4 linked regions of the Homo sapiens genome follow. The protein of the gene in region 1 interacts with the protein of each later gene in a pairwise test. Each region holds a gene or a part of one and is shown in the gene's direction. Other genes may lie near its edges.

Region 1 (6,495 bases):
TGGAGTGGAAAACATGCAGCTGGTATCTGCTGCAGAATTTATTTCCTTGCTTCTTGATGGGGAGAAATCCCCACACATTAGCCACAGAAATCTTCTGTGTTGATTGTTGTTGAGTGAGAGAGTAGAAAGAACATTTGAGTGTGTTTTTTTTTCCTTCTACCCAATAGCATAAGATGTAAAAATAGCTTATGCTATTGGGTAGAAGAACAAAAAGCTAAATCAAGACTCCTGAGTTCTAGTCCCAACTTTGTAACTAGCTATCCATGAATCCTTGAGCAAGTCCCTTCACTTGCCTGGGTACCTATTTCTAATTTGGGAAATGAGAGAATTGAGTCATTACTGACAACATCCCTTCCAGGCATAAGAGGGTAGATAATTTCCTAAACAGGCTACACACTGACCAGTAATAGCTTCAGATGCCCAAAGAGGAAAAAATATACAGTGGTCAAATTATGTTGTATGCTTTATCACCTTTTTGCAAGTTTATAAAGCCACACTGGAATATTAAAGGGACTGAGATGGCCTGCAATAAATAAAGCTCTACAACCAGTGGCCGGGCTCAGTGGCTCACACCTGTCATCCTAGCACTTCCGGAGGCTGAGGCAGGTGGATCACCTGAGGTCACAAGTTCGAGACCAGCATGACAAACATGGCAAAACCCCGTGTCTACTAAAAATACAAAAATTAGCCAGGCGTCATGGCGGGCACCTGTGGTCTTACAGGCTGAAGCAGGAGAATCACTTGAATCCAGGAGGTGGAGGTTGCGGTGAAACAAGATCGCGCCACTACACTACAGCCTGGGTGACAGAGTGAGAGTCCATCTCAAAAAAAAAAAAAAAGAAAAAGAAAAGAAAAAAAAAACAACTCTATAACCATCACTCCCAAACTAACTTAGCCAGAAAACTCTCTATTTTTATGTTACCTGTTAACACCCTGTAACACAAATACTCCTCAAAATATACTTTGAAAAATGATGAAAGGGAGTATCAACTGATGTTTTTATAATACCTGTATAATCTTCTTATGTATTGTGAAGCAGAAAATAAATGTTCACTGCAAGGATGGATTTAAATACTGTCACTGTTCTTATTCTAATTTTCAGAGAGAGTTCTAGATGAAGCAAGCATTAAATAAAAGACGCATAGTGAGGCTTTCATTCCAAGGGATAAAATCTTTTGTCATTAAATCAAAGTGGTGAGCCAGTGCCTGGGGGTAGAGGGGTATGGGAAGTGATTGCTTAAAGGTCATGGGGGTGTTCTTCTGCGATGATGGAAAAGTTTTTGAAGCTAGAGAGAGATGATGTTGCCCAATATTATAAATATACTATATGTCACTCAATTATACACTTTAAAATGGTTAATTGTAGGTTATGTGAATTTAACCTCCATTTTAAAAAATCAAAAGAACAGGACCTCTGCTAGCACAACTTTAAAAGAATTAGGAAAAGGCACCACTTTGGAGAAGATACAGACAGAGGAGTGCACAGTTTGTTGAGCCTCCAGCTTGATGTAAGAAATAATATGCTCCTTCCTCTGAGTGGACAGAGCCACACATCAGGGCGCGACCTGTACATCTATACACAATGGCCCTACAATGTAGTCAACATTTTATTCCCCTCATTTAGAGCTCTGTTGTCTCTGAGAGGGTTTAGGTTGGATGTACCTTTTAATTAAAAGGACTTTGGCTCAGAAGCACCCCAAAAAATCCTGGTTGGCATTCAGGAGGGAAGAGATAGATCTTGTGACTTGGCTTAGGATAAAAGTTGGTAGTAAGAGGAGGTCCTTGAAGTTTATGTGTTATCTGGTCTAGATTACTAGGATGGAAGCCCAGAGCAGAAGCACAGAAGCCCTACATAGGAATGTTGTATTCATTTGACTGGTACATCAATCATGTTTTATTTCTCGAGAATCTAAGTAAGGCAGTCACAACCGAATTAGAGAACTAGTAAAACGGAGATGAAGAAATTGGGAGAATCCCCAGAACTTGTAACTAGAAAACCAGAACCATGATATCTTAAAGAAAAATAATTTCAAACATTAGTGTCTGTGTTAAACCAAAGCCACGTTCAGGAATAACAGACAAACACATTCTTTCTTCTTATGGTACTGGAATGGTCTACAGCCCATCACTTAAATGAAGTAATGAATGCCAGAGGGAATCAGCACAGTAATAAGAAATGTGGTATATACACACAACGGAATACTATTGAGTCTATAAAAAGCAGGAAATTCGGTCACATATTACAACATACCTAAACTTGAAGGATATAATGTAAAGTGAAATAAAATAAATTTCATTTTCTTAATTTACTTAGAGGAGGTAAGGGAATGTTCAGATTAGTCTTCGTTCTGTGGCACAGGAGTCAAATTCTCAAGTAAGTGTCATACCTTAAATTTTGCATTGAGGAAGATGTTGAAAATAGTGCCACAGTAGAAAAGCCCAGAAAGGGAGAACTGATATGCAACGCCACTGTCTCCAGTGCTCTTATCAATAATGTATTTCAGGTCCTCAGATATCTGAGCCTTTTGCAAAAGGAGATACATCTGTTTAGTATCAAAGATTCTGCTAAATTTAGATCTGAATTAAATAGCTCCCGAGATTGTTGTCATGACACACCCACGTATTTCAAGCATCCAACATAAAAAATATTAGCTAATCAAAGAATCTGTGATGTAGCTTTGCTTAAGAAGAAGCAAGGAATTCACAAAGAATCATATCTTTTAAACCAAATTTGATGTGGGATTTGAAAATATGTCTTAATTCTGACTCAGAAAGAGTTATGATGTAAACTCAAAGCTGTCATTTCTAGAGAAGCAGAACTACCACTTGGTGTTCTGGTTCAAAATCCAAGAGTAGCATCGTAACTTGCATTTCTCAGTAATGAACCCATACTCCATGGAGGCCTGGTCACCTTTTATTGCATCTAAACAAAACCTTTATATTCACCGTCATCAGCTGTCTCATTCAAATTATATAAACTTTCCAGTTCACTGGATTAGTCTCTAATATCTATAATAAACTGCATACAGCCGATCTAACACTCTGTAGTAAATCACATACTCCAGTATTAATATGTTAAAAACTATAATTTTATGCAGTTAAAAAATCTAAATCTATAGAATATCCTAAGATAAAAGATGAGACAAAGTCACAAGAAGGTTAACTTTTTTAGCACTTAAGATTTTCTTGAACTGTGCTTATTATGCTGTTAATAAATAAATAAAATCTCTAGGAATGGCTGTAGTAAACTGTGTTATTACTTACCCTAAGCTCTCCCTTCCTTCCTTTTACTCTCAAAAAAGTCCGTAAGAAAGGAAGCAAATTTTTACGGCTTGCTTTCACCATTGGAATTTCCTTAGAATGACTTTTTACATAAAAAAAGAAGAAAGGAAAGAAAGAAAGGAGAAAGAAGAAAAAGAAAGAAAGAAAGAAAGAAAGAAAGAAAGAAAGAAAGAAAGGAAGGAAGGAAGGAAGGAAGGAAGGAAGGAAGGAAGGAAAGAAAGAAAGAAAGGAAAGAAAGAAAGAAAGAGAAAGAAGGAAAGAAAGAAAGAAAGAAAGAAAGAAAGAAAGAAAGAAAGAAAGAAGAAAGGAGGGAAGGAAGGAAGGAAGGGAGAAAGACAGAGAGAAAGAGAGAAAGAATTGACTATAGTGTTTAAAGAGTTTAGTCTGGAATCAGAGGTTGTGGATTCAAATTTCAGATTCACTAGATACTAGTGTGAACTAGGGTAAGTTACTTCAACCTGTTGTGGCTCAGTTTTCTCACATGGTTGATGGGAGTGGCAGTGATACCTAGCCCATAGATTGCCGTGAAAATTCAGCAAATTGATACATGCGAAGTACTCAGAACTATTTAGGCACATAATCAGTGATGGGAAAATGTTATCAATAGCAATTAATGCAAATCTCCCAGGCCCAAGAAAGCATCCCTTTCTGGCCAGCTGAATATAGTCTTGCTTCACAGTCAAAGGGAAGATAAGAAAGTTAGAGAAGGAGCCACAGTTAAAATTGGAGGGAATTAAACTGTCATGTGAGACCCAATCACCCAGTTGTAAGGGTCAACACTGAGTAATATTGACAATCCTTAAAGGTGAGGCATCAGTCAATTATTCCTTGACCATGAGGAAATTTTAAGAAACATGAGGAGTTAGGGATCATATTCCTAATTAATGCCAATGACTTCTTGACCATGGTAAAGAAGCCTAATTGCAGACCAAATACAATCAACTTTCAAAGGCTCTCAGTAGGTTCAACAAATAATTCAGGGAGAGGCCAATTATCATTCAGAGACAAATTATCCAACACAAATAAGCAAGAGACTTCTGGAATTATGTAAACAGTAGCTGGCCCAGGCTTATAAAAGGCCCAATGTGGCAGCCATCACCAAAACTCAGAAACTCCTCCAAGCAACCCAGACTTCATACCAGCTCCCAACACCATGACCTGCTGCCAGACCAGCTTCTGTGGATATCCCAGCTGCTCCACCAGTGGGACATGCGGCTCCAGCTGCTGCCAGCCAAGCTGCTGTGAGACCAGCTGCTGCCAGCCAAGCTGCTGCCAGACCAGCTTCTGCGGATTTCCTAGCTTCTCAACTAGTGGGACCTGCAGCTCCAGTTGCTGCCAGCCAAGCTGCTGTGAGACCAGCTGCTGCCAGCCAAGCTGCTGCCAGACCAGCTCCTGCGGAACTGGCTGTGGCATTGGTGGTGGCATTGGCTATGGCCAGGAGGGCAGCAGTGGAGCTGTGAGCACCCGTATCAGGTGGTGCCGCCCAGACTGCCGTGTGGAGGGTACCTGCCTGCCCCCCTGCTGTGTGGTGAGCTGCACACCCCCAACCTGCTGCCAGCTGCACCACGCCGAGGCCTCCTGCTGCCGCCCATCCTACTGTGGACAGTCCTGCTGCCGCCCAGTCTGCTGCTGCTACTCCTGTGAGCCCACCTGCTAAAAGCCAGTTTGCTGATTTTCAACTTGAAATTTCCACTTTCAGTTCCATTCATGAACGAATTATTTCTTCAAGCACTTATGGACAACGAACAAATTCTTCAACCTTTCTTTGTCTTTCTTATGGGGGTTACCAAATATTTTGGCCTCAGAATTATCTGATTCCTTTCAATTCCAGAAAGACCTTACTCTTCTCTCTGAGGACGCCAAAATACAAATTTGACCCAAGAAATGAAAAAGCCGATTTACCTTGAAACTGAGCCTTTGCAAGCATTGAAGCCCACGCTCTGAGTCTCAGCGCCGACGAGACCATGGAAGAGCCATCTGTCCTTCTCAGGACACTCACTTCCTGTATCCCACCGTCCTGCAAATTGCACCCCCTATGAAAGAGGAATAATATACCAAGGTCTAATAAATTTTAACTATTGGTGCAACAAACATATCTTTTTTTTTTCATTGAGTGTACTCAGGATGTATATTTCATAGAATGTCATATGAAAAACTTTAATCTGCTTTTGATATCCCTTCTCTTCTAATACCACATTAGGAAATTTGTTATCCAGAGGTCCAGTGGAGGTTAATGACCATAAAAACATAGAGTAAGTGTAGTTATTTAGGGCCTCAGAAATGGCAAAGGCTCTGTTACCATAACTTAACCTTACACAGTGCTTTCACAACCAGGAAGTTACAGAAATCAAAATCTCTGGCTGGGTACGGTGGCTCACACCTGTAATCCCAGCATTTTGGGAGGCCAAGGTAGACAGATCACGAGGTCGGGAGTTTGAGATCAGCTTGGCCAACATGGTGAAACCCCATCTCTACTAAAAAAAATAAATTGCATTTCTATATACTAACCATGAAAAATCTGTAAGGAAAATTTTAAAAACAATTCCATCAAAAGAATAAAATACTTATGGCCGGGCATGGTGGCTCATGCCTGTAATCCCAGCACTTTGGTAAGCTGAGGTGGGCAGATCACCTGAGGTTAGGAGCTCAAGTCCAGCCTGGCCAATATAGTGAAACCCTGTCTCTACTAAAAATACAAAAATTAGCCAGGCATGTTCGTGGATGCCTGTGGTCCCAGCTACTGGGGAGGCTGAGGCATGAGAATTGCTTGAACCCAGGAGGTGGAGGTTACAGTGAGCCAAGATTGTGCCACTTCACTCCAGCCTGGGTGACAGAGTGAGACTCCATTTCAAATAATAATAATAATAATAAAATAAAGAATAAAATACTTAGGAACAAACTTAGCCTTGGAGGGGAAAGACTCGTACACCAGAAACTACAAAATGTTACTGAAAGAAATTAAAGAAGACACAAATAAATGAAAAGACATCCTGAGATCATGGATTATAGGATTTAATATTGTTAAGATGTCAATACTACCCAGAGAATCTACAGATTTAACGCAATCCCTATAAAAATCCCAATGATGTTTTTGCAGAAATTTTAAAAAAATCCATCCTAAAATACATATGAAATTAGAAGGGGTCCTATATAGCCAAAACAATCTTAAAAAAGAACAAAGTTGGTCTCACATTTTCCTGTTTCAAAATTTAC
Region 2 (7,622 bases), on another chromosome or scaffold:
GCGTGGGAAGCCTTGCTCTTCTTCCTTTGTCAGTACTCTTCGGATTCCAGATGGATTACCTGGAATCACTACTCTCGCTAGCCAAAACTCATCTCTATGGTTCATCCATTATGGGTGAAGATAGAGCCAGAGATACACCTCAAGCCTCGCCTGCCTCCTTAGTCCCCAGTGCAGATTCTGCAGGTTTGAAATTCAATCTCCTTTATATGAAATCTAAAACTCTTGTACCAAAGCATCCAGAAGCATGATTTGTTGGAAATCTTTGTGGGCGTTGGGGGTTGTAGAGGGAAAGAGGTAGCTTTCCCACAGCCTACAGCCTTTTCTCTAATTTCTTTAACTGCTTTGAAAATCAGCAGAAACCAAAACACTTTTTGCACTGGGGAATGGGGATTAATCTCCCCCCAACCCCCGCCATACACACACCCTAATATACACCATTACACACCTACCGCCACATTAAACCAGCGAGTCTCTTCACGCACACCTCTCTTTTGTTCTGCCTGGAATCTACAAAAGGAGAAGCTCATTCGGCCCTGGTAATCCAGCTATACCTGTAATGTTATACCCTCCCCCCAAACAATTCGCTCCTTACACATCATCAAAGGCCTACTTGATTCCAATTAAGTCCGCATCCTTTGCTGTTTGATTACAATTAATATCTGCTGCCGTGGGGGGAGAGGTAACATGGGGGGAGGGGTAACATGGGGGAGGAGGGTTAGGAAGGGTGAGAGGCTAGAGAGGAAGCAGCAGAGAATAATTCTCCCCACCCAACTCACAGGCGCACCTCGCAGAAATGCAACCGCAGAACAAACAGGGACAGGAAACTCTTGTAATCGCTTACACATTTTTAATGTGTCAGAAAAAAAAGAGCGATCACTGGAGATGAAGAAGGGGAGAAGAAAAATCCCTGCCGTTTGTATTTCTTTCATTTGAATTGTAAACATCTGTTTGGCTGTAAGGCGAACAGATCATTTATTTTGCTCTCAAGATTTGGTCTAATTATGTCAACACCGACGCTACGACGAGTGGGGCGGCGCTGTGGCTTTGGAGAGGATGCGCGCACCGGCCCAGCGCCCGGAAGCCCGCTAGGAAGTATTGATCGCACCTGGAGAGCGCGCGGGACCTCTCGCCACAGCTGGGTGCGTTCTGAGACGGGGGAGGCGCGGAGGCCGTGAGTATGGCTCAGAGGCAGATTTAGAGGCTCCAGGGACCCGCGGCTCCTTGGAGACAGCCGCCGCTGTTTCCTCTGCCCCAGTAGCCTGGGATGAGAAGAGAAAAAGCTCACCCAGGCTCCGGCGCTTGTCTTTCCCATCCAGTTGCAGCACAGACGGTGGCGGGGTGTGTGTGTGTGTGTGTCGGCGGGGGGACCTGTCTTGTCCTACCCCGCAGTTCACACCCTGCAACGGGGTAGTTGTTTTTTTAAAAAAAAGTGGCGGGGTTGGGTGGCCTATAATCAGGTTGCCGAGCGTGCGTGCATCCATTTCCCATTGCACCTCCTTACAAGGTGGGGAGATAAGTAGAGCAAGTGTGAGCATCTTCATTGTTTAGATGGACAGACTAGACCCAGAGTCATTCGCCCAAAGTTGCGTGAGTCGATAGTTGGTCAAATTCTTACTTGTAGCCCGGTACTCTTTCCACTGCCCCACACTGTCTGCAGACACTGGCCAGATGTCCCCTGTTATGCCAAGGCAGCCAAGGTAAAGCCACCCCATGCTTCTTCAAACCGAATAAGATCTAACAAGATATGGCAGCTGGAGGATCTGCATCCATGTATTTTGTGCTAGTTTTGTCACACCTGAGCCAGAAGTCTCTGGCTGACTTCTTCCTGTAGCTATGGCAAAGTTATCCCTTTTAATGAAAGCCATGTCCTAGGCAAAGGACCTTGAGCAGATAGTTTCTGATTTCTTACCACTGTTACCATAGCTACCCATCAGAATTTGCAGCATCACTGAAAATAGAGAGCCCTATCTCCAAATTCCAAATTTAAAAATAGTGAACTTTGTGAAAGTATTGCTTCTGTGAACTGTATATGGAAAAGGGATGAACTCTGGAGAAGTTCTGCATGAATACACTGGCTATAGAATCAAAGACATTCTTAATTGTGATGCTGAATCTAGAATGATTATCACATAATTTCAATATGAGCTGACATGCAACACAAGCACCATGAGGAAGTTCAAGTAGTAACACTGGGGATGACTACTGTAAATGGCTTGGTGTGGGCCAACGTTTCATAACATTCTTCTTTGAGATCTCATCATTACCATCTGTAGTCTGGATTATCTTAAAGAAGTATCACTCCCTCAGCACCTTCAATCTAAAGGCAAAACCCTGGTGATATTGACCTACTACTTTTTTCCACCTCTCTAAAGAATAAATCACCAAGAAGAAAGATATCAGGTTCCCCAAGTTGCTGTAAACTCTACAAGTTGCCAAATCTTTAGCCAGGACTAGAGAGTTCCCCAAGGTTGCAGCAATGCCAGGTATCAAAGCAACAGAAATTCCCTTTAAAGATGCTGTGACATAAAAAATAAAAGACTCTAGAGTTGATGGCTAATCCTGAATACAAAATAAATCCTTCAGGCAATTTGTGTGTGCATAAAGCATACTCTTAATATGCAGCTTGTGTAACTTACCTAATAAATGTCTACTTGAGCATAAGCCAGAAGCCCAACCTAGATGTAGGAGAGGGAGACTCTGGGCCCAGGGAGTTAGCACGTGGGTAGATAGCAGACTCAGTGGCTTCCCTGGGAGCAGCTGGCTTTCAACACATAAGGTTCACTTTGCCAAAAGTCTTCCAGTTGGGGAGAGCCTGATCTAACAACTTCTTTTAAAAATGATAATCATCTACATCTCCCTAAATTAGGTTTCTAATCCACTGAAGATTAGTAAAGATAAGAAAGTTCTAAAATTGTGGTATTCCCTACCCTTAGCATCCAGGAAAATAATTCATACATATACTCAAACGCTCTGTTCTCTCACTTATCATAAACTTGAAGCTAACTGGCAACTGTGTGAGATTCCTTGTGTCCTCATTTGTATACTGGCTAGTATGCAAGAGAGGAAAGTTTATGTCAGAATATCAATTTGCTTATGATTTATAGTGACTGTGAGTAGAGATCCATTTTTAGAAGAGGGCTATGTGAATTTTGCATAAAGACATTGATTTCTCTTTGTTTAATATATTTGGGGTAGACTTATCTAATTCCTAAAATAATCAGGATCAAAATTCTCACAGTATGACTCTACACCACAGATTCATTAATACCTACCTTGCTTTCCTGTTCATCTAAAATTTTAAGAAGTCATTTAAGATTTTTTTTTGAAATGCATTTTGCATCTCTAAGTACAGAGTGAAACCGATAACAAAAGTGAAATGGTAGTCTTAGGTCCAGGAATCTGGGGGAACATTTTTATTGTTGTATTTTGGCTTAAAACTCGGTGAGAATATGAAGAGGGGGAAGTACAGGAGAATTTGTTTTTAGCTCCTAAAGCAGGTGTTTACATGGTTTGCCATTGTATTGGCTACAAGTTTGATGTCAAGAAATGGATTTTAATTTGACGATTGAGATTTTGAACTCTCAGATTTCTAACTGCGAACAGGTTTTCAGACACTGTCATGGAGGTTTTGGCAGAGTGCACAGGACCTAACTTCTAGCCTGAAGATGGTTGGCTACCCTGACATTCCCACTGATTACTCTTCTGGTTTTTGTTGGTTTGTTGTTTTTTGGAGGGACTTTAGAATGCTTAGGGAGAAAGATCTTGGTCTCCAGCACTTGCAAGGAAAACTTGGGTGACCAAAAGACAGTCAGGAAGAATTCCAGAAGGTACAGGGGTAGAAATGTTTTAAGAGTGGGGCAAGGTTAACTTTTTCTGTCTCCTCAGGTTTGGGATCCCTTTGCCTTTTTAAATGTCCTCCCAGGTTCTTTTGCAACCCAGCCCAGGGAAAATACCAGAATCTGAATGCCAGAATTTCTACCACCGGTATAATATTCCATATGTGCTAGTTAAGGGTAGGAGATACCTGGGAGGCAAGTGGTAAGTCCTAGTTCAGTGCTTCTCAAACTTTAATGACCATGTGAATCATCTGAGGCTCTCATTAAAATGCAGATTCTGACTCAAAAAGTTTGGAGGTGGGTCTGAGATTTTATGCTTCTAACAAGTTACAAAGTAAAAATATTTTAGACAACACTCTTCTGCCCATTTTTCTTCTCCCATCTACTTTTTTAAAACCTCTTTTCTCTCATAGAACTTGTCCCTTTTCTGGATATGGGTTGTAAGATTGACCCTAGCTGAAGAAACAAAATACATGATCAAAAAAGCCAACTTTGAATTTGCCTCGGACCCTTAAAAACTCTGCCTTTAGATTGCTCAATGCATTAGGCGGTTTTGGATCCCGGAACTGTATAGTCACCATGCTAGCAGGGTGGACATTGGCTCCAAAGTCTTGCAGTGGGGGAGGAATTGGACAGTGGGAAATGCTTCTCAGAGATGATCACCTTTGGATCGTCAAGTCCTCTTCAGTTATTGTCGACTGCCTGAGGATAGGGAACATACACTGTTGTTCCTGGAGGAGATTGAAGCTCAGGGGGCTTTCTGGAGCTTGGAGACAGAAAGCTTCTGTTCCAGGAACCCCAGCATGGCAATATTGCCTTGGTGATTTTGCTACTGACAATTATCTTTGTTTTGCTCCCTAATAGTAATAATGACAATGACATTTACAATTTACATTTACAATGACAATTATAAAAACAATATTATTGTCAGCTAACATTTAATAAGTATTATGATTACTATGTTCTGGGTCTTGTGCTGATATTGAGGGCTGGCATACAATAGAGGTATTTAACCTATCATCACCTGTATGGATTAGAAATTTCTTTCAATGAGTAACTGGTTTTTAGCAGTGCCTGGGATTGAGTGACTGTTTTGCCTTTAATTGGCAGATGGATGAGGAAAAGATGGCAGTTTTCAAACACTTTGGAAAAGACAGTAATTGTGGATAAAACATTTCCATCCATTGTGTACATTGTGCATCTGTGTGTGTACATAAACATACAACCATGTATAAGTAATACCTAGTCTTTGTGAGCTTAACTATTGGAATTCAGGTTTTTGATTAATTGAAGTGTTTCTTAGTGTGGATGTTGCCAAAATTAGCACTGGTGAGTCAGTCTACACTCCGTAGGATGCCAATGTTTCTAACAATTGTACACTCACAGACATTTTCACAAACATTGAAAAGACATGACCCTGAGTAGTATTTGAAAGAACATTTAGAGCAGCTCCCTGCGATGATCTGGGGGATATATAAGTACAACTGTTAGCATGTATTCCCAAATCCAGAATAGTCTTTTGATGTTAACTGCCTCTCATGCAGTTAGCTTCTTTCACTGTCACTAACATGTTATATACTTTTTTTCTCCCAAGGTGGCACCTGTGTGGTCAACCCCACAGACTTATTTTGCTCTGTCCCTGGCCGTTTGTCCCTTCTTAGTTCTACTTCCAAATACAAGGTGACCATTGCTGAGGTAAAGAGGCGCCTCTCCCCACCTGAGTGCCTCAATGCTTCACTCTTGGGAGGCATTTTGAGAAGGTAAGACAAAGCTATATTCTGGCACAGAATTTCTGCTAACTGATACCATACCCTCAACCCTTAGTCATGATGTCTTCCATCTGATAGTGTATTCCCCATGTGGTCAAGTCGTCTCATAATTTTCATCAGAATGTGAAATTTCAAAACCTAGTTTTTGTTTGTTTTTGTACAGAGCAAAATCAAAGAATGGGGGCCGCTGCCTGAGAGAGAAATTGGATAGGCTTGGCTTAAACTTACCAGCAGGAAGACGGAAAGCAGCTAATGTCACCCTCCTTACTTCCTTGGTTGAAGGTATGACTTTTCAGTTTAGCAAAATAATGCTGGAAGGTTGGCGTGTCTTTGAAACTCAGGTTTCTTAAATTATGCTGTTTTATTTTTGTCTGTACCATTAAGCAAGTCAGTTAACAGTTAAGGTAAATTTCCTAAATTATCTTGACAATGATGATTAAATTAGACTTAAGATTTAGATAATTCATAAAATATCATTTAATTTACTAATCTTGGTAGTAATAGGAAATAAGACAATGGAGGTTTTGGGTACTTCTCCAAATAGCCTCTAAATAACAGCAACATGAAATTGGCAGCGCTCTTGTCATTTGCATTATTGTTTATTTCAGAGTTTAAGTGAATCTAACTTAACCCATTGTAATTCAGTACAACATGATCTACAGGAGAAATAACCCTTTATGAAGAGTTCACAGGGGTCTAGGCATGATACTGAGCCTGAAAGCATATTGTATTAATCCTAGTAGACCTCTCTAAAGACATGGTGAACTTTCAAGGCTGTATGGGTGGATAAGCTCAGCTCAGTCAGAGAGAGGTTAAGGTTAACCAGTAGTATAGAAAGAGAAATGGAAATGAATATATTCCCAGAAGTTGTTTTATTTCCAACTTACCTCTTTCCTTTTTTTCTCCTATTAAGGTCTAAACTTTACATATTCTTATTCAGTCTTCTTTTAAGGAGAGTTATTATTGAAAGGCTTTTTTTTTAACATTGTGGGGAACTTTTTGAATGTCAAAGGAAAGTTTTTTCATCATGTGGAATGCTATTGTTTAAAATATAAAAGGCAGGGGCCTTTTGCCAAGCCTCACCTTGAACACACCTGTGTTACTTCATACATCCATTATTTGTCTATATGGCACTGTAGGAAGTAGTGAATGAAGCACAAAACCAAACATCTATACTTTTTTTCAGATTTTCAATACGTAGCATTTATTGTACAACACTGAGAAGTAGTGTGTTCTTGACATTTGTCTTGGCAGAATTGCTTTGGTGATTTTGCTCTTAACAGCCATCTTTGCTGTGTTCCCTGATAGTAGTCACAATAATAACAACCACAACAATAACACTGACAACTGACATTTACTGTGTTACTATTACCATGTTCTAGGTCTTGTGTTGTGTTTGCCTGCGTGTGCTGGTACTAAAGGCTGGCATATGGTAGATGGCTTTAACCTATCATACACCCACATTGGGGAAGAGCAAAGTAGAAAAAAAAATGACTAATGGATTGATTCCAAAGGGAGACAGATTTCTGCACATTTTAAGTAAAAATGTGGGTTAAAATTATAGTTATCATTGTTTAAAAATATAACAAAACAGTTGCTCAGGATAATAGAGGGGATTCAAGAATCATATGGGTGGTAGGACTCGAGTAGTTCTCAAACCCAACTCCACAGAAGAGTCAATTGAAAAGATTTCTTACAAAGTGCCTAGGTCTCATTCCCAAATCAACTGAAACTCATTCTGGGGTGATGGCTTAGGCATCTAAAGTTTTTAAAGCTCCCCAGGTGATTCTGATGTATAGTGGTGTTTAAATATCATTGATTTAATTGTTCCTTGGAACCCTTTTCACCACCCGGGATGATTGTGTATGAATGCTCATGAAATTTCTAATTGGTGTGAAAATTATCAATCCCAGTAAAGACTTTTCTCCAAGCTGTCTATGAAAGTACTGGTCAGTACTAACGGAAGACCCACAAAAACTATGTTCACAATTCTTACTGATTTTTATGGTAGCCAAGA
Region 3 (8,606 bases), on another chromosome or scaffold:
GCTGCAAGAAGGGTTGCCCCTGGTGATGGTGCAGGCTCACAAATTCAGATAACCTCCTGAGCCTAGATCTTCCTCCTCTGGAGTGGGAGTTGCTTCTCAGCTCCTGTTGGCCTAGCCCTGTACAGCCCACCCATTTTGGACTCTGACATTCTGCGGTGAGGGTGGCCTCACCTTCCACCTCCTCTGGGGTCAAATGGGTTTACCTTCACAGGGCTTTGAAAGCTGCCCAAGGAATCTTGAATCAAAACATGAAACTCATGCTAATTTCTATATGAGATCAGACAAGCTAGCAACCTTTCAGTGCCTCAACTTCCTTATAGGTAAAATTGGGGACAATAATGTCTCTTCGTTTTATGGGGATGTTGTAAAAAACTAGCTGGTATGCAAAAAAGCACTTTTTTAAAAAGCAAGAGATATATGAGGACAATTTCAATCTTTATTTGCTATTTTTATTAGGGGTGGGAGGAAGCACATGGTTTATTTGGGAAAGTGTGACCTTTGGAACAGACAAACAAGAATGAATTCTGCTTTTGCAACATACATACTTATGTGGTTTTGATATGTCAAAAAAAAAAATCTCTCTAAGCCTTGCTTGTAAAATGGTGTTAATGATAATTAACTTGGAGGACTGTTGCCAAAATTAGAGGTTACACGTATCAAGTCCCTACCAAGCACCTGACATACAGTAGGTGCTTTGTAAATAGTAGCTGTCATTACTACTATTGTATGTAATAACCATAGCAACTGAGATTCCATGTACTTATTCTGAACCTTTTCTCTCACTTTCAGAGAGCCAAACTCCTCTGTCCTGCCCTGCAAGCAGTAAAGGCACACACTCCTTGTTATATTCCTGGGAGATGAAAGGAATACTGTGCCTCCTGACTCTTATCATAGGAGTGACTACCTCATCCTGATTGGCCCAGGACTGTCCTAATTTTGGCACTGGAAGTCCCATGTGCCAGGAATCCCCTTAGTCCCAGGCAAACTGGGATGGCTGGCTATTCTACTCACCACCAACTGGGACTAATCTAACCCCCATGCCATATTCCAGCACCTAGATTTAGAGCAGAATATTAAGATTTGTGCTGGAAATTGGCCAGGTGTGGTGACTCACGCCTGTAATCCTAGCACTTTGGGAGGCAGAAGCAGGCTGATCACTGAGGTCAGGAGTTTGAGACCAGCCTGGCTAACGTGGTGAAACCCTGTCTCTACTAAAAATACAAAAATTAGCTGGGTGTGGGGGTACGCACCTATAGTCCCAGCTACTCGGGAGACTGAGACAGGAGAATCCCCTGAACCTGGGAGGCGGAGGTTGCAGTGAGCTCAGATCATGCCACTGCACTCCAGCCTGGGCGACAGAGCAAGACTCCGTCAAAAAAAAAAAAAAAAAAAAGATTTATGCTGGAAATCTGGAAGGACCCAGGAATATTAGCTCAAAGAGCCATCTTAAGTCCTTTTAGAATAAGGCAGGGTCTGAATTGAAAAGTGAAAATAAAAAATTAGCTCTGGTTTAAAATTGATTGTTAGGTGGAAGAAACAAAAAATCAATTATAAAGGCCACATATTTGTATGATTCTATTTATAGAGAGTGCTCAGAATAGGCAAATCTATAGAGACAGAAAGTAGATTGTTGGTTGCCTAGGGAGGGAGGCAGGGAAGGTGGTAGGGAGGGAGGAAATGGTAGTGACTGCTGATGGGTATGGGAGTTTTTTTTAGGGTCATGAAAATGTTCTAAAATATTGTACGACTCTGTAAATATACTAAAAACCATTGAATTGTTCACTCTAAATGTACAATTGTACATGTGCAAATTTGTACAATTTGTAAAGTTATACAAAATAAATACAAATTTAAACTGTGAATTGCTGGTATGTGAATATCTCAATAAAGCTGTTAATTAATTAATTAATTTATTTAAGACACAGTCTCACTCTGTCGCCCAGGCTGGAGTGCAGTGGCGCAATCTCAGCTCATTGCAGCCTCTGCCTCCCAGGTTCAAGCAATTCTTGTGACTAGCCTCCCACATAGCTGGGATTACAGGCGTGCACCACCACGCCAGGCTAATTTTTATATTTTTAGTAGAGACGAGGTTTTGCCATGTTGGCCAGGCTGGTCTTGAACTTCTGGCCTCAAATGATCAGCCTGCCTCAGCTTCCCAAAATGCTGGGGTTACAGGTGTGAGAAAGCTGTTAAATTAAAAAAAAATCTTAAAAATTTTAAAGAATTTTATTTAAAAAAATCTATGATCCCTCCCACTTGAGAATGTCTAAGTCTAAATTATTCTTAACCTTCATCTTGTGAGATCTTTTCAATGGCAGAAAGATAATATTCACCCCAGGCCAGGAAGTACCATTCCATTTTGCGGGTGAGAAGAGCAAGGCCTATACGTAGAATGTAACAGGGGCTTTTCGTCAGCTGTACTGAAGAGGCCAGTGGAACTTCAGATAGGAGGGGATGAGAAGACAGGAAAGGCTGGTGAGCTGACATTTATAAAGGGAGGAGACTTGACCCTGATTCTGGCAATTCAAAGCAGAAGGAAATGGAAGCTAATCCCAGCTGTAACCCAGCTACTCGGGAGACTGAGGCAGGAGAATCCCCTGAACCCGGGAGGCGGAGGTTGCAGTGAGCTCAGATCATGCCACTGCACTCCAGCCTGGGCGACAGAGCAAGACTCCGTCAAAATAAATAAATAAATAATTAAATATTTAAAATGTTTAAAAATTTTAATTTAATACTTTTCTGTGGCACTTTGGGGCTCAACCAAAGTGCCACAGAAAAGTAGAAGCAGCAGCCTTGGGAAGATTCTGAAGGGTAAGTAGAGAAGGCCTTCAAGATTGAGGAAACAGCATGGGCACCTGGTTTGTGACAGGAATGGCTTGTTAGAGACCAGCAGGTGGTATGGGGAGGCTGGAGTGGGGTGTGTGGAGGGATGGAGAGCATTTGGGCCGGACTGTGGACAGCACAGGATACTACAGTCCTTGCTGATGACTTTGAGTTCATTCTGTGGACCCTGAAGGTCTGGGAGAGGATTTTTTTTTTTTGAGACAGTCTCACTCTGTCACCCAGGCTGGAATGCAATGGCACGATCTCGGCTCACTGCAACCTCTGCTTCCTGAGTTCAAGCAATTCTCCTGCCTCAGGCTCCTGAATAGCTAGGATTACAGGCATGTGCCACCACGCCTGGCTAATTTTTGTATTTTTAGTAGAGAAGGGGTTTCGCCATGTTGTCCAGGCTGGTCTCAAACTCCTGACTTCGTGATCTGCCTGCCTTAGCCTCCCAAAGTGCTGGGATTACAGGCGTGAGCTACCGCGCCCGACTGAGGATTTTTGGGTAGTGATGGACAGATCTGCATAGGGTCTCACAAGGGATTTTATAAGGTGGCAGTTCTTGTATGAAGTTACTGAGCCTCTTAATGGCCAAACTGACTTCAGTGCACAGCCAGGGGCTCAGTTACTTTGGCAGTTGATCTGACCTGAACCATCCATGCCTGCTTTCTTCCCTTTCCTTTCTTTCTTTTTCTCCTTCCTCCATTCATCTTCTCCAATTCTTCCTCCATCCCTTTCCCTTGCTTCCTTCCCCCTTGTCCCCTCCCTGAGCCTTGGGTCTGCCTGGCATGTTCCTGCTGCCCACACTGATTTGGTTGTGCTCTGAGGCAGACCCAGGTAGTTCTGAATTGTGCTTTTCAATCTTCTAGTGGTCTGGGCAGTGTGGCCCCAAATGAGCAGGAAGGGAGGGGTGCCCATCTTCTCTAATGAGTCTGGACCCAAGAAGGCAAGGAAGAAAGAAGGCAGAACAAGGATAGACTTATGAAAAAGGCATTATAGCAACGAGCCACAGGTTGCTGTGGGGCCCAGAAGGGAAGGGTTCTTTTGGGGATGGGTCTGTGTGCATGGGGAGGAGCATCCTGTTTATTTGGTTCAAGCTACTTCACAAGGACATGCCCTGTTAATTCACAGTGCTTTTCCCGAAAGCCTACTAGAACTAGGCCTGGTGAGAGGCCCTGAGAAGGTGTATCCTTTTGTCCAAGAGCATCTGGGAGAAGAGGCCTGCCTGACCCAAGCTGCAGCAAAGACACAAGTCTGTAGGTCCAGATGTGGACTCTACCACTGATTTACAAGTAGGAGTTCCTTAACACTTATGGAGGACCTCTGAGACCGACACGGTGCAAGGCCCTGGGGTACAAAGATAAAAAGCCAGAGTCCTCCCCATCAAGGCGCCACGGGCCCTGTAAACACATAAACCGAGGACACACTGCATGAGAGATCACCAATAAACGATGTAGCCATACAGTGCACAAACTGCTCACTCAGTATGTGCTAGAAAATAGCCCCAGAAGGCAAGGCTCAAGAGGGGAAATACAGTTAGGAATGTGGCAGGCTTCTAGCCCGGGCTCTGCCAGTCCTGGCTCTGAACTGCGGTTTTCTCAACCTTGAGATCCCTTGTGTGCTTTTAGTATGCTGAAGGATCACTCACTTCAGAATGCTAGTGAAAATACAGATTCCCAAGTCCGACCCCACTGAATCACAATGGCTGGAGGTCATTCGGGGCCCCGAATCTGCATTTTCACCCCCACCCACCCCCCGGGCAGCTTTAATGTTGGCAGGCTAGGAACCACAGTTCGGATTACTGCTTAACAGGGAGATAATAACCTGCTTCAGACGAGCTAGGTCAGACGAGCAATTCAAGAGCTAACAAGGCAACATGCGCCAAAAGCCTTGTAAACCTCAGGGCAGTACAATTCTTTGCAAATAATAGTAATTCAATCATGCAAATAATAATAATAGTAAACGAACTGGAGAGCGCACTGGAAACGCCGCATAGTCCAGCTGAGTCGGTGCCACCGCCCCATCCACTCCAGCGCAGAGGGACTGTCTCTTTAAGGACCCCCCACCTCCCCAACCGCGTCGCTTCTCCCTTGGGTACCTGGCCCGGCCGGCGGCGCGTGCGTGCAGGGCCTCCCGGCGGGGCGGTCGCGGCGGCGCGACGCCGGCGCCGTTGCGTGCGCGCCTGGCCCTGCCCCTTTCCCGCCCCTTCCCCGCCCCCTCCCCTCCGCGGGGCCTCCCCCGCCCGCGCGGTACAGCTGGGTCAGTGACGCGGGCGCTGCAGCCGTCGCTACCGCCGCGTTCTATTCTCCGAAGCCGGCGACCGCCCCACCTCCTCCCTCCCTCCCGCCCGCTTCCTCTGCCCACAGCGCCGGCCAGAGCGAGCTAGACAAGGGCACGCGGGGCCTCGCCTAGACCCGAGAAGACTGCGGGCGCGCGCAAGCGGCGGCGTGGAAGCTGTGAGCGCCCCCATCCCGGAGGTCTCCGCCGGCTCCCGGGTGAGTTGTCACCGCGGCCCGGGGGCGGCGGGGCCGGCATTGTGCCATCGACGCGCTCGGCCGGCTGTCAGGGGCGCGGGACCAGCGCGCACCGCCCAGGAGTGACGCTGGCCGGAGCCCGGGCCGGCTTCGGCGGCTCCCCGCGCTTCTCTGCGCCGGCCCGCTGTCACCCGGCCGCGAGCCGCGCCGCTGGGAGCCCCGCGCTGGCGTGGCGCGGCCAGCCGGCCAGCAGTGGGGGCTGCGCGGCCGGGGGGACCGGCGGCTGGTTTGCGGCCGGGAACTTGGTGACCCGCGGTCCGGGGCGCGCCGTCCCGCGTCGCTGCCCGGGCAGCACCGGAAGAGCCAGACGCCGTGCCGATGGGTGCAGAGGAGGTAGGCAGAGGCCCTCTGTGCCACTGTCATTACTGCCCTCAGCCCAGCAAAGCTGCGGGGCTTGCGCTGGGGCAGGGCTGGCTTAGAGAAGGTGGATTTCCTGAGGAAATCTCAGAGCCCGCCTGTGCGCACCGCGGCATTCGGGAGCCCCCGCGCCTCGGCTGCTCTTTAATCTCAAAAACTTCTCTTATTAACCAGGCTAAACTCCCCGAAACCAGCTATTTTCTTTCAAAAAGTAGGCACGTACATACAGACTTTCCTTTTTTCGCTTGGTTTTGAGACCCCAGCTATGAGTGTGGATCTGACTCTCCCTCATGGGAGTCGTGGCTGGGGAGCTGCTGAAGTGGAGAAAAGTTACCCTGGACGAATTTAGGAGCAGGAGGGGGAGGTGGTTATGGGGACAGCAAGACCCAGGAGCAAAGAGGCGTCAAAATAAAGTCTTGGGCTGGTTAAAGGGAAGTTGGCGTCTGGGCAAGGAGGCCTAAAGCTGTTGTTCCCACAGAATTTTCTTTCAGTGGCAGGCGACATGCTGGGCTTTGTTGCTCTCGCTAACTGGGCTCCTGTGTGCTCTTCCAGAGGTGCAGTAAGATTACTCAGTTCAATTAGGCCTAGGGATTTACTCCCTTTTTTGATCTACAGAGATGGGAAGTATGTCTTTCCTTCACAGTAGTTAATTCATTTCTTGCTGTTTTCGTTCCTCTGGTGTAAAAACATACATAGGAGTTACGCACACACACCTTTTCTGTTTTGGGAATTCCACACCCAAACTGTCACCATCTAGTGGAGGCTAGTAGAGACATGTGCTTGGCACTGACTTCTGAGTTCTCTGGGTTTTGTGTTTTTAGCTAGAAGCATATTCAACCAGAAATTAAAATTTTCCTGGAGTTGGGGGAGGTATGTCTACATCTCAGGAAAGAAGGTATTTAAGCAGCAATAATATGGAAAGGTTCTTGAGGACTTACTGAGTACCAACCTTTGTGCTAAGGGCTTTACTTTTTTGAACTCATTTAATAACAGACTTTTGATGTAGATATTATTATCCCCATTCTTCTAGTTGAGACCCAAACCAAACAAGTTAAATAACTCGCCCATGTCACATAGGTATCTCATGGTGGAGCCCACAGTCTGAACTACTAGATTATACTGCTAGTTTCTGGTTTGTTTACCTTTTGATAAAATTGAACCTGGAGTCTTTCTAAAACCTTCTGAAAGCACTGCTGCTTCAGGCTGTTTCTCAGATCATGAGCATTCTAAACTCTTTCTCCTGGGTACACACTTACGGTATGTTTGCATAAGATTCATTTGTTCATTCTTTCATTCAGTACTCCCAAGTAGTTATGTGATACCGAATGTATGCCAGGCACTGTGCTAGGTATTGCAGGTACTGCATTGAATAAGTCAGAATCCAGCTCTCATGGACTCACAGCCTTTAAGTCCATTTGTTTTGGTTTATGTTGTTAGCTTTCATTGCTGGCCATTTGCTGCTGAAGGAACTTCTGCCCAGCGAGTTAAACAGAGGACAGTATTGGTATGAGTCCTGATAGATAGGACTTCCTGTCTGCAGAGTAATTTTTTGGATACTGTAGTAGAAATGGCATATGAAACAAATCCTCACTTACACCTAGATAGAGACAGGTGCCAGGGTGCTCAGTGTTTAAACCCTGAGAGCAAACCCACTGTCAAATGGGCAAGTTTGACTTCTTTCGCTGAAGCCTGCCTTCTGAAAGCCCAGAATTTGGTGAGATAGAAGAGAAAGAAGGGTAGAATGAGGTGTTACAGATACAGGCTGGCAGATAAAGAGACCTCAGCACTTTGTCTGTTTTCCTGGTCAGTCTCTGAGGTGTGGTGATTGAACTTGTGTTCTTTTTTATTTTTTATTTTTTTTGAGATGGAGTCTCGCTCTGTCACCCGGGCTGGAGTGCAGTGGCACGATCTCGGCTCACTGCAACCTTCACCTCCCAGGTTCAAACGATTCTCTGCCTCAGCCTCCTGAGCAGCTGGGACTACAGGTGCGTGTCATCACGCCTGGCTAATTTTTGTATTTTTAGTAGAGACTTGGTTTTACCATGTTGGCTAGGCTGGTCTCGAACGCCTGACCTCAGGTGATCTGCCCGTCTTGGCCTCCCAAAGTGTTGGGATTACGGGCGTGAGCCACCGTGCCCGGCCTGAACTTGTGTTCTTATGTAATGTTGCATCTCTCAGTAGGGGATGTCCTCCTTTGCTCTTTTGGTGGGGCAGCAATTCCTGCAGCAGCCTTCCCTCTACATGCACACACACACCCCTTCCAAAAGGTAATAATTCACCTGGTTTCTTTAAAGTTAGAACTTCTTTCAAGTTTATTGCTACTAAGCATTGTTTCACTCCCTCCACACTTGTCCATTTCCCACATAAAAACTTGGCTTTTGCTTCAAATATTTTCTTCTGCCCTTTTTTCATATCCTTAGCTCTTCTGACAACCAAGTTACTACTGGTATCATTTGTAGGCTGGGAGAAATACAGCATCTTTAAAAAAAAATAGTGAGGTACATACTCTTCCTCATTTCAGTACCAAACAAGTGAACTGTGGAGAATGAAGCAGAACCACTTGCCAGCAGAGAGGGAAGGCCAGAGGGCACACGTGGTTGTCTTTCCCCTCTAGTTCCCCATTTATTAAGAGACAATTCACACTTGCAGGCCCGAATGTCAGCAGATCCATTGGGCCCAGGTTGTGTAATTGCCATACATGAAGTGAGTTATTAAGCTCCTGAAATGACATGCTATCTCCTAGTTGAAGCTGACAAGCAGGATTTATTTTCCCTCTTCTTTCTGTCTGGACACTATGGAAGTCTTGTTAGAGGGTGTTCGCTCAAGCAGTGGGAGAAAGATCAGAAGGAGCCAATAGAGGAGGGAGCCCCATGTCTTGTCTTCTTTTCA
Region 4 (7,916 bases), on another chromosome or scaffold:
TTCCCAGATTAATGTAGACATTGATTTAAATTAGAAACACAGTACCACAATGCTCTAACATCAGCAAAAATCATTACTTACAGTTTATGAAACTGACAGGAGCAAATGCCAATCAAGTAAATAGCCTATATTTAGATAACCTAGGTAATAGTTCAGTGGGGAGTTTTGAAAAAGAAATTATCATTTCAATGCCAAGTCAGGCTTACAGCTTTGAACAAGTAGCAAAACATGGACATGTTTCTCAAATGGATTTCACAGCATCAGTGCAAAAGCCGGAGGGGATGGCTTAGTTTTTTAAGCCTCAGAATTGAAATACCTAGACTCCCTGCAACTACAGCATTAAATCCTCTGTGGAACCACAGCTTCAAATGCTATCAGGAGGGACTCAACTCTTCATCCTTCTGAGACTGATAAATTGAAAGCCATGAAGTTTAGAGGAAATAAGAGAGCCTGCAGCGGTCTGAAACTCCTCCACCCACCTCCAACACACACACATACACAAACACAAACACACAAAGGCTCTATTTGCAACATCACTTAAGATTCCATTTGAGGCTTTCCCCTTGTTAAGACTTAAGGGTGTTGTTTTTAAGACATCCAGAAATCTCACAGTCCTGCCATGCACCATCTTTATAAGCATTCAAACCAAATTTCAGGCAGCTCCAAGTAAACTAAAAACATTATTTTTAATTCTCATTTAATATATTCAAGGAAATTCTAAGTGATTACTTTCAAATGCATTATAGGTATTGGGCCAACTCTTTATTCTTCCTGTGGAAATTTCTGTGTCTCAAATTGATCAAATTGATTTCTTTTTACTGCCTTGTATGTTTCTGGACTGCCTCCTTGACATCAATTATAGGTACTTGGGAATGGCAAATTAGAATAAGAGAATTTTATTTAATTTGCCTGGTATTACACCATTCTCCCACATCTCCTACCTCATTCACAAAGCTTTGTAAAATAAGAAAGAATACTATTATTATCTCCATTTTATAGATGAGAAAAGCATGGCTTAGGAAGCTTACATGAGTTAACCACAGCTGATACACAGTCACCTTTTTTTAATTTTTTTTTTAATAGAGACAGGAATCTCGCTATGTTGCCCAGGCTGGTCTCAAACTCTTGGGCTCAAGCCATCCACCCACCTCAGCCTCCCAAAGTGCCAGGATTATGGACATGAGCCACTAGGCCTGGCCACACCCTAAGTTTTAAAATCTAAGTCTGGAAAATCCTCCTGAAGTATTGCTAGTTATAAGTAAGCTCTACTTAGGAACAGAAACATTTTGCCAAACAAAATTGTGTAATGCATTCTAAATTTAAATAAAAATACTTTTACAAATAGTTCCTTTGATTTATCAGTAACACTAAATATCTCTGCCCTGTGTATAATGATTTAAAAGAATGAAAAATTGGAGAGGATGCTGGAAAAACTGAGGATCATTTATTTTACGGTCTACTACTGAAACAGGAAAAGTTCCCTTGTCGCCCTTGCAGGGCGTGTGATGGGGGTGTGGCTCGCTTCTTCAGTGTCCTGCTGCTCAAACCTCTATAGGGGCATACAGACGGGCAGATTGTGAGGCTCTGACCCCACAGCAGTGTCTAGGTGTGAATGTTTACAGCTGAAGCCCCAGTGGGCATGTGTTACAGGGTGCTCTTTTAGTTTAACCGTCTGTAGGCGGCTTGTGTTAGCTCAATTAGACCCCTGCCTTATCGCAAAGACAGAGGGCTTTCTGTATCCCGGGTTCTTACCTTGGTGTACGGGAAGAATTGGATCACACGTGGGCTTGAAGAATGAGTGGAAAGTTTTATTGAGTGGAAGTAGCTCTCGGCAGACGGGGGAACCAGAAGGGAGACGGTTTTCTCCTGGAGTCAGGTATGGCGGCCTGACTCTTCTCTGACCTCCCGCGACAAACTCTGCATTCTTCCGCTGGTCAATGGCCTGCCAGCATGCCGGTGTGCTCCTATGCTGGTGCGTTCCTTTCGACATCCAGCAGCCCCTGTATTCTCTGCCTATATGCTCCTCTCAATGTCCAGCTGCTTGTGCGTCTGCCTGCCAGGGTCTCGGGGGTTTTTAAAGGCACAGGATGAGGGCATGGCAGGCCAGGGTGGTCTTGGGAAATGCAACATCCGGGCAGGAAAACAAAAATGCCTGTCTTCACCTAGGTAGGCCCAGGCCCAGGGATGAAGCCCTAGCTGGGGACCACGCCCTCCTCTACCCAGCACTTCCCGCCCCCCTTCCTTATCATTTAAAGGGACCACGCCCTTCCCTTCCCAGCATTCCCTTCCCAGCACTTTCCTGCGGCATCACTACCTGTTAACAGGTGTTCCTTTTCGTTTAGATTTACCTCAAAACAACGGCGAAGGATCTAATTATATTTAGGCCCAAAAGAGCACCTAAGTGAGAGTAACAGAAGGTTACTTCTAGAACTAAAATGAAAATTATTCTTCAAGTGTTAGTCAAAGGAAAACTACTCCAGAAGGAACCAAATATCCAGACGAATTTAACTTAAGAAACAGCTACAATTTAGGCAAACTGGACAGTGGATCCAGTAGGTATTTTAGTAGCCACTAAGAAGACACTGAATCGGGTAGATTCTATAGGGATTGCATATTAGTTATTTAAATACAAATATCCGGCTGGGCACGGTGGCTCACACCTGTAATCCCAGCATTTTGGGAGGTCGGGGGGGTGGGGGCGGTGGGTGGATCACCTGTGTCAGGAGTTCAAGACCAACCTGGCCAAAATGGCAAAACCTGTCTCTACTTAAAATACAAAAATTAGCCGGGCATGGTAGTAGGCAGTAGCAATCCCAGCTACTCAGGAGGCTGGGGCAAGAGAATCGCTTGAATGCAGGAGGTGGAGGTTGCAGTGAGCTGAGATTACACCAGTGAACTCCAGCCTGGGCGATAGAGCAAGACTCCATCTCAAAAAATAAATACATACATACATACATACATACAAATATCCATGGAAAAGTTGATATATTGAGACCTTCTATCAGCCATTCCCACTATAGTGTAATTTAGCTGTTTCTCTGACAGGAATTTTTATTTAAGAAGAAAGAATTTGGAGAAATAGACATAGTAGGAGGTAACAGATCAGGCTCTTTCCACCAGAAGAAACACAAATACCTTAAAAAACAGGAAGAGGCTAGAGAGATCAGTGGGGTACTAAGACCAATTTTCCATGTATTGTATTTTACAATTTTTGCTAAAGGCATGTCCTAATTCCTTAAGGCTGCATAAAAATACTCAGCCCAGGAGCTAAGGAAAATTTACTCAGAGGACAATGTATGTTTTTCTGGCTTTCTTACCCTGTTTCACCCAAGTTTCCAGTTTCACCTGCCATTGGGTTATGATTACTCCAGCACAGATGACTTGTTCCTCTTCCAAACCCCATGAAAGGAACTTAGAAAATTTGTCTTTATTATATCTTTTAATTAACACTTCCCCAACGGGATAATGATACTTCTGGGCTATCTTATGTTCTTTAAATTATGTATTTAATTTCCTAGCAATCAATAAGAGCCTTGAAGGTTTTGTAAGTCTCACAACTCCTACCTAGTTTATATTTTTACATTTATTTATTTATTTATTTTTGAGACAGAATCTCACTCTGTTGTCCAGGCTGGAGTGAAGTGGTGCGATCTCGGCTCACCACAATCTCCACCTCCCGGCTTCAAGCAATTCTGCCTCAGCCTCCCAAGTAGTTGGGACTACAGGCATGCACCACCACGCCCGGCTAATTTTTGTATTTTTAGTAGAGACGGGTTTCACTATGTTGGCCAGGCTGGTCTCGAACTCCTGACCTCGTGATCCACCCACCTCAGCATCCCAAAGTGTTGGGATTACAGGCGTGAGCCATCGTGCCCAGCCTAGTTCATATTTTTAAAGTTTGTATAGATTTATAGATGCTTTTAAAAATTATGTGATTATGTGTCTTGCCTTGGCAACCTGGGCAGGCATTCCAGACACCCAAAGGGATTATTAGTTCATGTTCGCACGTCTGCCCAGCAACAAAACTGAGCAGCCTCCACCAAGCACGTAAAATCCCCATTCCTCCTCTTATTCATTTATTTAGCACTTAATAGTGCCAGGCAGGAAGGTAAAAATACATTTAAAAAGGAATGGAGGTAGCCGTCTTGCCCTGGAGGTGCAGGAAGCTGCACTTCAGTGTGCTAGGTAGAGGGTACATAGGCCGTTTCTGTTTTTCTTCCAGCTCAGGGATTTATAATGAGAGGAAGTGCTACAAAAAGCTGTGGTGCGAAAATGACGGACGCTATGAATGGAAAAAAAATCTAAAATCAATCCGGTCCTAAGCAAACACGCTTCACCTACACTCATAACTATTGCAGACCTCCGAGGCCTGGGATCCCCAAGAATATACTGAGTTTGACAAACTTTTCAACTTCAACTTTAAATTAAAAAGACAGTAAAAGAACCAAATCCATAGTACACAGCAATCGGCTAAAGTTCCTGGGGCCCTGCAACCCAGAGTTGAATAATTTTGTATTAAATTCCCAATATCAAGCTAAATCTATTTTAACCACAGGAAAAGCAGCAACTTGTCTGGCTATTTTAAAAATCTGAACAGCACTTAGGAAGAAGCACCTTAGCGCAGGGAACAGCTCAGTGCCCCGTGACACAACTCTCCCGCGGGCCCAGGGACGCCTCGTCTCGCGAGAGTTGAGGGACGCCTGAGCGAACCCCCGAGAGAGCGGGCGTGGGCGCCAGGCGGGCGGGGCACTGGGGATTAATTGTTCGGCGATCGCTGGCTGCCGGGACTTTTCTCGCGCTGGTCTCTTCGGTGGTCAGGGATGGCGCGGAAGTCGAACTTGCCTGTGCTTCTCGTGCCGTTTCTGCTCTGCCAGGCCCTAGTGCGCTGCTCCAGCCCTCTGCCCCTGGTCGTCAACACTTGGCCCTTTAAGAATGCAACCGAAGCAGGTGCGGGTTGGCGGCCTGGGCGGGCGGCTGCGCCGCGAGAGCTTGCGGGTGGGGATGACTAGCCCGCCCCGCTGCAGTCACCCGGCAGGGCGGACGGAAGAGCGCCGGGCTGGGCCGGGCCTCGCGGTCCCGCCCTCTAGGTCTTCCCGAGTCTCCAGCGCCGCTCAGTCTCTTGCAAGTGGCCTTTACTGCATCCTCCCCACCTACCGCTGTTGCATTTTAGGTCCTCCCTTCATGCAGCCCCCAGCGCAATGTATTTTCCACCCTGCTGCTGACCATAGTTATGGCCTTTGTGCTTTAATCAAGTAGCAGCTACGCTTTTCTGCCTGACAGTCTTTTCACGGGCTGTGTACGTCTCCACCTCTCGTTTCTAATCCTTCACTTCTTTGCAATTTTGTAGACGACTAATAGTGTCCCAGCCATAGCCTACTCTTTTCCCATTTACTTTTTTTGCCACGTGTTGTCATACTTTACCTGCCACTTAGAATTCAAGGTTCCAACCTTTGCTGTACATTCACACTATCTGGGGAGCTTCTCAAAAATCATCCTGCCGGGGCCCACCTCCTGTGACTGTGATCTAACTGCTGGAATCAGGGCCACTGTTTTTCTTTAAAAAGCTCCCTAGGTGATTTCGATTTGCAGACAGGGTTGAGAACCACTAAGCTAAGGTATCACCTCTTCCAGGAAGCGTTCCCTGACTTAACTGCCCTCGTGTCCAGAATGAGTTAGGTTCCTGCCTTCTACACCTTGTTAATAGCCTTTACGTACCATTATCTTGGCATTTTCGCATTGTACTATGCTTGTTTCTTTCATTTGCTTAATGACCAGAAGAGTCATTTTCAGACCCCTCCTCCTCCATCTGAGGTTGCTAACGTATTAACTTTCTAGGGCAGAATTGGCTCCAGAATTTGGTGGCAGTGCATACGATTCAGAGAAAATGAAGAAGCAGGCTGTGAGAAAGATATTCCCAGCCATAATGAGACGAAAAGAAATTGCATCAGCCTGGGCGGGGGACAGTTCTGTGTTTAAGTTGCCTGTATTGAAAGAGGGAACTTGCGTAAATACACTTTCAAGCCTGTAGGTGCTGTAGTGTTTACCAACCAGAGCACCCACTCTTCAAGGAATTCTGTTGTTACCAGAAAAGAAATTGTCCATCAAAGACCCTTCCCCCCACACCCCCAAATGTATGGGATCCTGGCTCTGCTACTTACCAGCTGTGTGACCTTAAACTAACTGCCTGACCTGTGGCTCTGTTTACTTTTCTTTAAAATGAGGGTCGTGATTGTACAGTACCTACCACAGAAGCTGTTATGAAGACTCAATGAACTAATCCATATGAAGTCCACGTTGTAATTGTTTGCTGTTCAGTATTATTAAGACTTCCTGGGATAGGTGTTACCTCAATACACATATCAATTATGCATATTTTAATCTAATGATGCAGAAGAAATGTGTGAAGAAGGCTGCGGTTTAGTGGATTTTTTATTTAACTGCCTTTTAGTGGTTTCGATTGTACCTTTTAAAATAAAGGAGGGGATACTGATTTCGTTTCTCGCACACAGAAGAGATAGATATTAGTAAGTGAAAAAAAAAAAAACCTTCAGCTTGCACCAATAGCCAGTTTTTTGAGTTCTTCTGATAACTAGTTAAATAATTTTGACTCTTCACTGACTCCTTTGTAACACTTGATAAACTAATGTGTTAAAAAATCAGCTTAACTCAGTAAATGTGAAAAAGTTGTTAAATTGGAGTTGGTTTGTTGCATTTGGCATTGAAAAAAAAATATATATATAAACAAGCATTATTGGGATTTGATTAACAGCGTGGAGGGCATTAGCATCTGGAGGCTCTGCCCTGGATGCAGTGGAGAGCGGCTGTGCCATGTGTGAGAGAGAGCAGTGTGACGGCTCTGTAGGCTTTGGAGGAAGTCCTGATGAACTTGGAGAAACCACACTAGATGCCATGATCATGGATGGGTAAGAACACCGTTCAGGTCCTATTTATTATGTTGAGTTACATTTAGAGTTGTGGTCTTCTGAGAGCAAGATGAAAGAATGCATGAGTTTTGACACAGATCAAAACCCCTAGCTTATTATACTTGACCTTTCTAAACACAGTTTCCCTCTCAACTGAAAAAAAAAAATCAGAGTAATAGAAATATCACATGGAGAGATAGGTAGTCCCTTAGAACTGGGAGAATGCCAAGCTAAAAAACTATGTCTCTGACCTTATAAACAATCATTTATCTGCTGTCCACAAATGCTGTGGTTTGCCTGACCTGAAGCCTTCAGGCCCCTTTCAAAAGCCATATTTAAAATTAGCTTGGAGAAACTGAGAATTTTAGTGCTGTTGTGGTACATGGCAAGTTGATTTTCTATTTTTTTTCCTTAATTTTGTCTGATTGTGGGAATCTATATGAACTTCGTGGATGTGCTGTCACTTCTGTGTTAAGATGGTGGAGTTTAACCGCAAAACACTATTGATTGGAGAAAAGCAATGTTTTTAATCTATGAACCTCTGAAAACTCCTTAATTCCTAACTGCATTCTATTTTCTTGCAGCACTACTATGGATGTAGGAGCAGTAGGAGATCTCAGACGAATTAAAAATGCTATTGGTGTGGCACGGAAAGTACTGGAACATACAACACACACACTTTTAGTAGGAGAGTCAGGTATTTTTTTAACTACACTGAAATTTTTTCTAGTCTTTTGACTATAGTTTTCACTGAAAAATAGTACAAAATCATGGATAAAACCAGATCTAAGTTCAAATTCCAGCTGTTTTACTTAACATCTATTGAACTGGATAAGTAACTTTTAAATCTCTTTACTTCTTCATCTCTAAGAAGAAGGCAATGGAAGTTTTGAGACGGAGTTTCGCTCTTGTCACCCAGGCTGGAGTGCAATGGCGCGATCTCAGCTCCCGACAACCTCTGCCTCCTGGGTTCAAGTGATTCTCCTACCTCAG

What was found.
Region 2: the proteins of KRTAP1-3 (region 1) and TFAP2D interact in binary tests that used the Homo sapiens proteins (3 or more experiments, as listed by UniProt).
Region 3: the proteins of KRTAP1-3 (region 1) and SUSD6 interact in binary tests that used the Homo sapiens proteins (3 or more experiments, as listed by UniProt).
Region 4: the proteins of KRTAP1-3 (region 1) and AGA interact in binary tests that used the Homo sapiens proteins (3 or more experiments, as listed by UniProt).

What each region holds. Positions count from the first base shown.
Region 1 is NC_000017.11:41,032,762-41,039,256, reverse strand, and holds KRTAP1-3 (keratin-associated protein 1-3), read left to right. Parts: upstream 1-4,382; 5' UTR 4,383-4,435; coding exon 4,436-4,939; 3' UTR 4,940-5,373; downstream 5,374-6,495. UniProt on the Homo sapiens protein: In the hair cortex, hair keratin intermediate filaments are embedded in an interfilamentous matrix, consisting of hair keratin-associated proteins (KRTAP), which are essential for the formation of a rigid and resistant hair shaft through their extensive disulfide bond cross-linking with abundant cysteine residues of hair keratins.
Region 2 is NC_000006.12:50,723,426-50,731,047, forward strand, and holds part of TFAP2D (transcription factor AP-2-delta), read left to right. Parts: intron 1-5,430; coding exon 5,431-5,596; intron 5,597-5,768; coding exon 5,769-5,887; intron 5,888-7,622.
Region 3 is NC_000014.9:69,606,508-69,615,113, forward strand, and holds the start of SUSD6 (sushi domain-containing protein 6 precursor), read left to right. Parts: upstream 1-5,088; 5' UTR 5,089-5,321; intron 5,322-8,606. UniProt on the Homo sapiens protein: May play a role in growth-suppressive activity and cell death. May be involved in the production of chemokine molecules in umbilical vein endothelial cells (HUVECs) cultured in THP1 monocyte LPS-induced medium. Plays a role in preventing tumor onset.
Region 4 is NC_000004.12:177,439,280-177,447,195, reverse strand, and holds the start of AGA (N(4)-(beta-N-acetylglucosaminyl)-L-asparaginase isoform 1 preproprotein), read left to right. Parts: upstream 1-4,758; 5' UTR 4,759-4,820; coding exon 4,821-4,947; intron 4,948-6,769; coding exon 6,770-6,923; intron 6,924-7,507; coding exon 7,508-7,620; intron 7,621-7,916. UniProt on the Homo sapiens protein: Cleaves the GlcNAc-Asn bond which joins oligosaccharides to the peptide of asparagine-linked glycoproteins.